Homo sapiens: one gene and its partners. The protein of the gene in region 3 purifies or fractionates together with the protein of the main gene of each other region. This does not show direct contact. Each region holds a gene or a part of one and is shown on either strand. Other genes may lie near its edges. The genes, in order: CENPF, FRYL and POLH.

The links.
Region 1: the proteins of POLH (region 3) and CENPF purify together in Homo sapiens (affinity purification with mass spectrometry; one large-scale study listed by BioGRID and IntAct). This does not show direct contact.
Region 2: the proteins of POLH (region 3) and FRYL purify together in Homo sapiens (affinity purification with mass spectrometry; one large-scale study listed by BioGRID and IntAct). This does not show direct contact.

Annotation. Positions count from the first base shown.
Region 1 is NC_000001.11:214,644,542-214,648,194, reverse strand, and holds part of CENPF (centromere protein F), read right to left. Parts: intron 3,639-3,653; coding exon 795-3,638; intron 1-794. UniProt on the Homo sapiens protein: Required for kinetochore function and chromosome segregation in mitosis. Required for kinetochore localization of dynein, LIS1, NDE1 and NDEL1.
Region 2 is NC_000004.12:48,500,699-48,504,351, forward strand, and holds part of FRYL (protein furry homolog-like), read right to left. Parts: intron 2,148-3,653; coding exon 2,130-2,147; intron 1,036-2,129; coding exon 925-1,035; intron 1-924. UniProt on the Homo sapiens protein: Plays a key role in maintaining the integrity of polarized cell extensions during morphogenesis, regulates the actin cytoskeleton and plays a key role in patterning sensory neuron dendritic fields by promoting avoidance between homologous dendrites as well as by limiting dendritic branching.
Region 3 is NC_000006.12:43,614,047-43,617,618, reverse strand, and holds part of POLH (DNA polymerase eta), read right to left. Parts: coding exon 3,062-3,572; 3' UTR 1-3,061. UniProt on the Homo sapiens protein: DNA polymerase specifically involved in the DNA repair by translesion synthesis (TLS). Due to low processivity on both damaged and normal DNA, cooperates with the heterotetrameric (REV3L, REV7, POLD2 and POLD3) POLZ complex for complete bypass of DNA lesions.

The DNA of each region.
Region 1 (3,653 bases), on a different chromosome or scaffold from region 3:
ATACTGACTGCCATCTCTTGCAAGGTATCCAAAACCCCAAAATTCTTAGAAAATACAGGGTGGAGATGAATTTTGTGGATAGTCCTTTTATTCTTTAATATTTGTTCAGCAAGAATTAAGTGTGACAAAATCACTTTCCTAGATCACTAAGTAAGCTCACTGGGCCAAAACTTAATTTTTCTTTAATAATTGAGCCTCTTGATGGCAGATCTTCCCTTTAATCATCAACTAATACAATAGAAGACTGCACAAAGAGAAGGTATAAGAGGGACTGAAAGCACGAAATCCCCAAAACACACCCTAGAAGCCATGAGTGCTCTGTTGGTTACAAATCTATCAGTATCTTTAAAAGTGCTTTGTCCTGAAGGCAAAAAAGACACAGTAAGGCAGGCAGATCCTTTCCGATCCTAGATAATGTCTGTTATACTCTCTATAGCAGTGAGTCTCAACTGGATATGGGGAGGCCACTATTCTGATGTACTCTAAGAAAAGGAAATATAACTAGAACAAGGAACTGTGCATAAACCAAAGCTTTGCCCTTATGTAGGTGCCACATTAAAAACCTGGTCCAATCCATGAACATGTCCCAAAGAATCAGCCAGAATAGTGACTACTGCCAGAGCCAACTCAGTGTTTCTGCAATTCAAGACCCAGTAAACATAAAGCCTTTACAAAGTTTGGTCCAATATAGCAGACACGGTCTAGAAGTAAATACAATTCACAGTGTCTAGAAGAAAATATGGTTTCCTGCCTCATGACTACATATTTAAACATAAACAGATATAGCCACTTACTTTTTCAACAAAGGACATTTTGTCCATTTTTGTCAATTCAAGCTCATTCTCTAGATTCTTGTAAGAACTCTGCAGCACTTCTAATGTGTCCTGCAAAGAGGCATTTTTGGATTGTAGCACTTGGATCTTCTGCTCCAATTCCACTGTCAGATTTCTCAGTTCTAAGTTTTGCTCCTTCCAAAGTTGGTGCTCTCCTTCCACCTGGGACAGTTTAGAGACAAGCTGCTCTTGGTCTTGAATTTGATTTTTCAGTCTACTGATTTCTTCATCCTTCTTCTCCAGTTTCTGCTTGCCATCTTCTACTTCTTGAATGAGGCCATTCACTGAAGATTGCAAAACAATATAATTATTTTTGGCCTCATCAAGGCCTTGTAGCAACTGAGCCTTCTCAAGTTCAAGACACTCTACTTGACTACTAAGATTCTGCTCTTTGGCCTTACAGGCTTCTTGGTCATTATGCAGGGCTGCCACTCTCTCATTGAGCTCTTTTAATTGTGTTTGAAGCATCTCCATGGCAGTGCTTGATTTTTCTTTCATCTGTACTTTCTCTTGCTCTTTTTCTTGCAAAATATTTTCAAATGATGAATTTATTATTTCTAATTCAGATATTCGCTCTTGCTCTTTTTGTAATTCATTTGTCAGATTTTCTTTTTCTGACCTTATAGTAACAACATCTAATTCCAGACCTCTCAGACTTTGGGTCATCCCTTCTATTTTTGCTTTTAGGGTCTCTACCTCTCCTTTGGAATTCTCTGCCTCAAGAGCTGCATGCTCTTGGTTTGTCCTGGCTATCTCTAGCTCTCTTTCAAGGTTCTCCACTCTACCCTTAAGTAAATCTGCATGATGCTCACTTTCCTTCAGTTGTTGTAAGACACAGAGCTGCTTCTTTTCATCAGCTTCTAGGCGGGCTCTCAGCTTTTCAATGCTATTTCTCAGCTGATGCTCTTCCTCTATTGGTGGGTCTAGACTCTGTTCTGTGGCCTTCATAATTTCTTGGTCACCACACAAGGCTGCTACTGCCTCATTTAGCTCCTTTAACTGATTCTGAAGCATCTCCACTGCAGTTTTAGATTCTTCTTTGATCTGTATCTCTGCTTGCTCCTTTTCTTCTAACAGACTTTTAAATGAAGAGAGTAACTTGTCTAGTTCTGACAACTGACCTTGTTTTTCTTGTATTTGTTTTGTCAGATTTTCTTTTTCAGACCTTAACGTGACAAGGTCTAATTCAAAAACTTTCAGGCTTCTGGCCATCTCTTCTATTTGTGTTTTTAGAGTCTCTACTTCTGCTTTGGAATTCTCGGCATCAAGAATCACTAGCTCCTGGTTTTCTTCTGACATCTGCAATTCCCTTTCAAGGTTCTCAACTTTATCCTTAAGTGAATCATTCTCCCGCTCGCGTTCTTTCAGTTTCTCTGCGATGTGCAGCTGCTTCTTTTCATCGGCCTCAATGCGAACTCTCAGTTTCTCGATGCCTCTTCTCAGCTGATGCACTTCCTCCTGTGTTGAGCTCAGCCTCAATGCGAACTCACCTTTCTCCACCAGTGCGGCCTCCAAGGCCTTGGAGACATTCAGCTTTTCATAATCTGATTCACTCAGTCTGGCCTGCAGGCTTTCAGATTCCTTGACAAGCAATTCTTTCTCTTTATTCAGTTGTGCAATTTGGTTTTCCAGCTCACATTTTGTCAAAGACAGTGCCTGTGAGTCCTTTTCCAAACTCTGCAGCTTTTCCTGGAGATGAGTTTTGTCTTTTAACAGCTCACTCACATCAGAGGACAAAGTCTGAAGGAGTTCCGTCTTTTCCTTCACCTCTGCCTCTGCCACCTGAATGCAATGGAGACACTCACTTTGATGAGACTCAAGCTCTTGTGTTTTCTCCTTCATTTTTTCAGACAACTGATCCAGTGCCGTGGTTTTTTTTGACATAGTATCTAATTCTCCACGAAGCTGGTTTCTCTCACTTGTGACCACTGAGAGTTCTTCTTCAAGGCAGACAATAACCTTCTGCTTATTTTCATTGTCTTTTTCTAAACATAGCTTCTCTGTTTGAACTACCTCTAAGTCAGCCTCCAGGTAGAGGGCTTCATGCTCAATGCTAGCTTTCTCCGATCTGATCCTACTCAGCTCATTTTCCACATCAAGAAATCTCTCCTTCCAGCTGTCATTCACCTTGGCCACATTATCTCCAATATCTTCACGTGATGATTTATCTGCATGCATTTCTAAATCAGAATTGAGGCCTTCAGAAGTTTCTACTCTCTGGAGTAACTCCTGGTGATCACAAGAAAAATATTCCAATTTTTCACTTAAATCTGAGTTTTCTTTCTTAAGTTCCCCAACTATTTTTTCCAATTCTATGCATGCTTCAATTTTGGTCATTAGTTGTACCTCCTGTAAATGGAGTTTTGAGTCTAATTCTTTCATTTCATTTAGCAAACTTTCAACTTTTCTGTCACGGTCCTCTATCACATGAAGTAATCTCAAATTCTCATTTGATGTCTCTTTTACCCGCAGTTGAAGATTATGGATATCTTCCTGATTCCCCAGGAAATCCATAGGTACCAAAGCATTAGGACCAGAAAATGACAATTCAGAAATGCATTCTGAAGAGCCCTGGGTTTTATCTTCCCCTGGAGGCTCATAATTGGTATCTGGGGACTGTTCCCCAGAGCACTCTCCTGTGGGTTTCACTGCACCAGTCTCAGTTATTTTCTCAATGTCTAGATTGAGGTCCTGCTGAGCATCTTTATCACAAATCTGATGAACATCATGCTTTGGTGTTCTTTCTGTAGTTTCTGAAGTATGTTCTTTTGATATGTCACAGCTCTCATTTCGGCCTTGAATAGCCTGTAATTATAATAC
Region 2 (3,653 bases), on a different chromosome or scaffold from region 3:
AAGACTAAAGTTAGCATCTTTGAGGCTATGTATTGATTTTCAACATTCAAAGTGTTTTTTAACATGTTTTTTCTTGTGTGCACTAATAAAACTGTAACAATGTGGGCTGGGCACGGTGGCTTATGCCTGTAATCCCAGCACTTTGGCAGGCCAAGGCAGTGGGTCACCTGAGGTCAGGAGTTTGAGACCAGCCTGGCCAACATGGTGAAACCCCGTCTCTACTAAAAATACAAAAAGGTTAGCTGGGTGTGGTGGTGCACACTGGTAGTCCCAGCTGCTTGGGAGGCTGAGGCAGGAGAACTGCTTGAACCCAGGAGGTGGAAGTTGCAGTGAGTTGAGATCATGCCATTGCACCGCAGCCTGGGCAAAAGAAGGAGACTCTGCCTCAAAAAAAAAAAAAAAAAAAAAAAGCTATAGAAATACGAACAACATGTTGAGGGAGGGGGGTTGATGATACAGTTTTATGTCTTTATTGAACTGATGTGCTTTGTTTGACTATTTTGATTTTCTGAGACAGGGTCTTGCTCTGTCACCTATGCTGGAGTGCAGTGCTGCAATCACAGCTCACTACAGCTTCTAACTCCTGGGCTCAAGTCATCATCCCAGCTCAGACTCTCGAGTAACTAGGACTATAGGTATGTGCCACCATCCCTGGCTTTTACTTGACTTTTGATTATAGATGATCTGTGTCTACTATGGAAACCTTTAAGGTCTTGAACCTTTTACAACTGCTGGATATCTGCTGTCTTATTTACTCATAGGTCCTGACATAGCACATCATTAAAAAACAAATTATTCCTTAACTAAAAGAAAAAAGACTCACTCTAAGTGACTTTTGACTTAAGCTATTTTAACAAGTAATAGATTTTATTTTAAAATTTTTTTAGAATCAGTTACTGATGCCTAATACAACTGAATATTTACCTCTGCTTCATTTTTTATCGTATTTACTTGGTTGATAAGTTTACAGTAGGCCTGGAACAGAAGCAGCAATTGAAAATGCAATTTGTATAATCTTCGGCAGAGCTCCAATTCCTAGAAATAAATAACATTACATTAAATTTAGGTGTTATTTTCTAGACAGCATATTTCCAATGGAAATTTATAGTTAAAATTGTCTTGTCGTTTATTTTTCTGCAGTAAGGAAGTTAATATGGTATGAAGCTGATGAAAGGCACGTGAAATATGCTTTAAAGACTAAGATTAAAATAAAAACAAATATCACTGCTGGTTACATAATTCAGTTTTAATGTTAAGCACATTTTCACATTCTACAAATAGACTGTTTCAGCAGGCAATTAATAGGATACTTTAAAAAGGATTCATTAGAATTTAAAACTTTAAATTCATAATTAAAATAATCTACAAATGCAAAGACTTTTGCCCTCATTGAGATGTAGATCTCACTGCATTTATCAACAAATGCTTGATAAAGCAAAGTGAAACCGGATAACCTCTTACCTAAAAAGTAAGAAAAGCTGTCTTTTAAAGTGAGGTCATTTTTCTAAAGAAAACCACTTGGTAATCTCATTGAAATGAAACTATGAAATTAACAACGTGGGCCGAGCACGGTGGCTCACACCTGTAATCCTAGCACTTTGGGAGGCCGAGGTGGGCAGATCACTTGAGCTCAGGAGTTTGAAACCAGCCTGGCCAATGTGGTGAAACCCCGTCTCTACTAAAAATACAAAAAATAATTAGCTGGGCATGGTGGTGGGTGTATGTAATCCCAGCTACTGGGGAAGCTGAGGCAGGAGAATCGCTTGAACCTGGGAGGCAGAGGTTGCAGTGAGCCGAGATCATGCCACTGCCCTCCAAGCCTGGGCAACAGAGCAAGACTCCATCTCAAAAAAAAAAAAAAAAGTTGTGCACTTTGATTTTTTAAATTAAGAAATTTAAGAGGAGATATGTTTAAGAAAAAGGTGACTGCTAATTTTATGTATTTTAACATCTCACTATTTTAAAAGAACCAACATTTCATGGATTAGGGCTTTGCAAAACTGAAGCACATACTACTTGTAAAGTAGTCCACGAGAAAACATTGCTGGGTCACAAATGGACAAATGGCAGATGAAAACCAGTTTGTCTGGCAAGGGTGAGTAGTCTATAAATCAAGACAGGTCACTTACTGCTAGTATTTCCATTTGCTAAGCAAGAAGGTGATCAGGTCACAAAAAATACAAAGGAAGAAAAAGACCAAGAATTAGTGTAAGAAATCATTTTAACTAGGGTCACAGATGTTCCAGGTAAACTGAAGAACATATATTTATACCCCAAAGAAAATTATACAAAGTTATTTCCAGAATAAAACTTTTTAGACATTTACTGCAACGATTCAGGGTGTTTTTAAACACTTTGCCAAATAATAAATTACATTTAGGCTATGACTTATTTCTGTGTAAAAGCTACAATGAATAAAACTGAACTATTGTGATCTTGGTAAATCTGGCTATCCAGGTTTAAAAAAAAAAAAACCAAAACCCAACTGTAATAAAACTTCCATTTGTAAACTGGAAAACTTATGATTAGAAAATAAGAAACAAATTAATTACTGTTACTTCTCAGAAAAGAATTGGCTTATAATCGTACATAATAAATACTTATCCATCACCATCAAAAGATTATCTCTAGGGTGGCTCATTCCAGGCTTCCTATCCTTTACTGTCTAATTAGGTCCTACTTTGCCATAACTGGTGCTGAGCCACAGGGTGGAATATCAAAAGCAGATGCATGTTCTAAATTGCATTCCAAATATACTTCAGTAAGTTTCAGAAACTTAACCCGACTAGGTTTGAATCAACATAATGTATGTAAAACACAGAGTAAAAATTTATGAACCATCTTAAAAACTATATGAAAACATGTACAGCAACTTGGATCTGGTCTCTTACGAGGAGAATGACTTCTAACTAAAACAACAATTGTTACACCGTAAATGTATCTTCTAAAAGTCATTCTTAAGCCTGCTTTTCTAAATAGTTTCCTGTGAAGGACTGTTTTTCATAAAGTTTATTCCTATCAATTTAGAAGGGATTTGCTAAATAAGCAAAGGTGAACTTTAGCTCCATGCTGCTTACCATAAATTATGTGGATGCTCATCCAATAAACATCAGTTGAGCACAATCCAAGGTCAAGCATATTCCATATCTAAATTTCTGAGGGTTTAGTTCATACAGTTTATTTCATATGGAAATTAACAATTTGAATTTTAAATACCTTTCCTCACTTCTATTAGCACAAATAAAGTAGAACTGATTCTACAAGCATATATGTATAGCCTCTACTTTGGGATGTAATGGAACATAAACTGCTGATAAAGTTTATGATCGTAGGAAATAACACAAATGTAATGAATTTTACAGCTCTGAATTACCAGCAATTACTCTAAATATGCTAAAACAGTGCAGTTTTTGTGGATGAGTGTGTGTGTGTGTATATATATGCACATTTTAAAGTATATTAAAATTTGCACATTCTTTTATTCATCTAACAAATATTTGACTGCTTATTATGCAAAAGACAAGACTGGTACACAAGGACAGATCAAATTGCATAAAAAGCGTCTTCCACCCTCAAAACAGTTGAATATGAAAGGTGAGCTGAAATATAAATGAAAGTGTTAAATGTTCAGTTTCCACTTCGTAGAAAACCTC
Region 3 (3,572 bases):
GTGTCACTCTGTTGCCCAGACTGGAGTGCAGTGGCACAATCTCAGCTCACTACAACCTCTGCCTCCCAGATTCAAGTGATTCTCCTGCCTCAGCCTCCTAAGTAGCTGGGATTACACGCATGCGTCACCACACACACCTAATTTTTGTTATTTTTTGTAGAGATGGGTTTTCCCCATGTTGGCCAGCCTGGTCTCAAACTCCCAGCCTCAAGTGATCCGCCCACCTTGGCCTCCCAAAGTGTGGGATTACAGGCATGAGCCACCACACCTGACCCACATTGGGAAATCTTGTTAATATCAGATTACAATTAAGTGGGAATAGTGGTGAGGCTGAGACTATTTCTAATAAGTTCCCTGGTGATACTGAGGCTGCTGTTCCTCAAATCATACTTGGGAGTAGCAATGTTCTAGAGATGATCTAGTGGGTTTTTTTGAGACAGAGTTACTCTATCGCCCAGGCTGGAATGCAGTGGAAATCTCGGCTCACTGCAACCTCTGCCTCCCAGGTTCAAGTGATTCTCCTGCCTCAGCCTCCCAACTAGCTGGGATTACACGCACCCACCACCATGCCCGGCTAATTTTTGTATTTTTAGTAGATACAGGGTTTCGCCATGTTGGCCATGCTTGTCTTGAACTCCTGACTTCACGTGGTCCACCTGCCTTGGCCTCCCAAAGTGCTGGGATAACAGGCATAAACCACCACGCCTGGCAAGATTTGATTATGACTTATCAGATCTAAACAGAGTTCCTGAACTAGTCAAGTAGCAATCTAATTCTACATTAGAACAAAACGCAAGAGATAGGCCAATGGTTAGAACTGAGGGTATAATAGGGTTTACCTGTATGAAATTCACTGTTTATTAAGTCACTTTTATGTACAGAAAGACCTGCCCTAGTTACCATATCACTTTTAGGGTTTCAAGGCTTCATCTCACATTCTTCAGCTGAAAACAGGTAAATCTGGTGAAGGTATTATCTGAACTGCCCGTCACAGAGCTAGAGAGAAGTTTTTCTTTTGTTTTTTTTTTTTTTGAGACAGTCTCTCACTCTCACCCTGGCTGGAGTGCATTGGTGTGATCTCAACTCACTGCAACCTCCACCTTCCAGGTTCAAGCAATTCTCCTGCCTCAGTCTCCCGAGTACCTGGGATTACAGGCGCCTGCCACCAAGCCCAGCTAATTTTTTTTAGTAGAGACGGGGTTTTGCCACCTTGCCCAGGCTGGTCTCGAACTCCTGAGCTCCTGCAATCCACTCACCTCAGCCTCCCTAAATGCTGGGATTATAGGCATGAGGAACCGCACCCAGCCTAAAGAGAAGTTTTTCTTTTTTTTTTTTTTTTGAGACGGAGTCTCGCTCTGTCACCCAGGCTGGAGTGCAGTGGCGCGCTCTCGGCTCACTGCAAGCTCCGCCTCCCGGGTTCACACCATTCTCCTGCCTCAGCCTCCCGAGTAGCTGGGACTACAGGCGCCTGCCACCGCACCCGGCTAATTTTTTTTTGTATTTTTTAGTAGAGACGGGGTTTCACCGTGGTCTCGATCTCCTGACCTTGTGATCCGCCCGCCTCGGCCTCCCAAAGTGCTGGGATTGCAGGCGTGAGCCACTGCGCCCGGCCAAGAGAAGTTTTTCTTAAAATCCTTTTTTTGGGGGGGCCAGGATCGGTGGCTAACATCTGTAATCCCAGCAACTTTGGGAGGTCGAGGCAGGCGGATCATGAGGTCAAGCAATCGAGACCATCCTGGCCAACATGGTGAAACCTCATCTCTATTAAAAATACAAAAATTAGCTGAGTGTGGTAGCACGTGCCTGTAGTCCCAGCTACTTGGGAGGCTGAGGCAGGAGAATTGCTTGAACCCAGGAGACGGAGGTTGCGGTGAGCTGAGAACGCACCACTGCATTCTAGCCTGACGACAGAGGGAGACTCCGTCTCAAAAATAAAAAATAAAAATAAAAATAATCCCTTTTTTTTTTTTAACTATGCAAGTCTCATTACATTTAAAACCCTTTTTTAAACTTGGTCCCTTTTCTGTGCCAACTTTATGTTTGTTTTTGTTCTTGTTTTTGTTTGAGATGGAGTCTCGCTCTGTTGCCCAGGCTGGAGTGCGGTGGCGCGATCTCAGCTCACTCCAACCTCTGCCTCCTGGGTTCAAGTGATTCTCCTGCCTTAGCCTCCTGAGTAGCTGGGATTACAGGCGTGCACCACCACGCCTGGATAATTTTTTTTGTAATTTTAGTAGAGATGGGGTTTCACCATATTGGTCTGAAACTCCTGACCTCGTGATCTGCCCGCCTTGGCCTCCCAAAGTGCTGGCATTACAGGTATGAGCCACTGTGCCTGGCCCCTATTTTTTATTTTCTGAGATGAAGTCTCGCTCTGTTGCCCAGGCTGGAGCGCACTAGCATGATCTCAGCTCAATGCAACCTCCGCCTCCAAGGTTAAAGCAATTCTTCTGCCTCAGCCTCTAAGTAGCTGGGATCACAGGTGCCTGGAACGTGCCTGGCTAATTTTTCTATTTTTAGTAGAGATGGTTTTGCCATGTTGGCCAGGCTGGTCTCAAACTCCTGACCTCAGGTGATCTGTCTGCCTCGGCCTCCCAAAGTGTTAGGATTACAGGCGTGAGCCATTGTACCCGGCCGAGTTACATAATTTGAATACATTGTTATTAATCTGCAATAATCTGTAAGGTATTATCTCCATTTTACAGATGAGAATGTGAAGAAAATGACTTGTTCAAGGCCCTCATTGCAATAACCAGAGCTAAGTTTGCAACCACGTCTCTTAGACTCCAAGGCCCACACACTTTTTACTTTATGACACTGCCTCCCTAAATGCTAAAGATTAAAAACTCTGGTAGGATGAATTTTTACATCTCTGTCAGCAGTGGGATTAGAATCCATGCCTGTGAAGAGATGGGACCGTAACTCAGCACCTAAATGGATTATTTTTTGTATTAAAAATTTCATAATTCCCTTTCTCAGGGAAATCTGTAAAGATAAAATATTAAAGATAAAGATCTGTAAAGATAAAAAATATTAAATCCTACAGGCAAGCCTGAGGGCAGCACTAATGTGTTAATGGCTTAAAAAATGATTCCAATGTTTGCATGCCCTCAGGCCTGGGGCGTTTATTAGTGCAGGCCAAAGGGCTCTTGGGATTTCTTTTGCCTTGATGAGATACGGCAGAAACAACCTGGGGGTTTGAAGAGTGGGGCTGCAAAAAGGATTTCTGCAACTCCAATGCAAAATGATAGTCCATGTGTTCTGGCATATCCCATACCGGTACCAGGGAGCCACACTTCTCACAGGGCACTTGGTCCTCAGCAGCTAGAAGACTTGGATTTGGGGTTGCTTTCTGAGTCACCTCCAGCACAGATTTGGAAGCTGAAGAGGCGTGCATGCTTTGGCTGTTGTGGGCCAAATCCATCTCTGCAGGAGTTGCTTTAGAGGATTCTTCTAGCTTCGACACCCCTTCACAAACAGGGACACACCCTGGATACTCTGTTGGTAAAGAGTTTGGTAATGCTTTACAGTTGGACCATGGGTTTTGTTGGGGGGAAGAAACTGAAGAATTATTA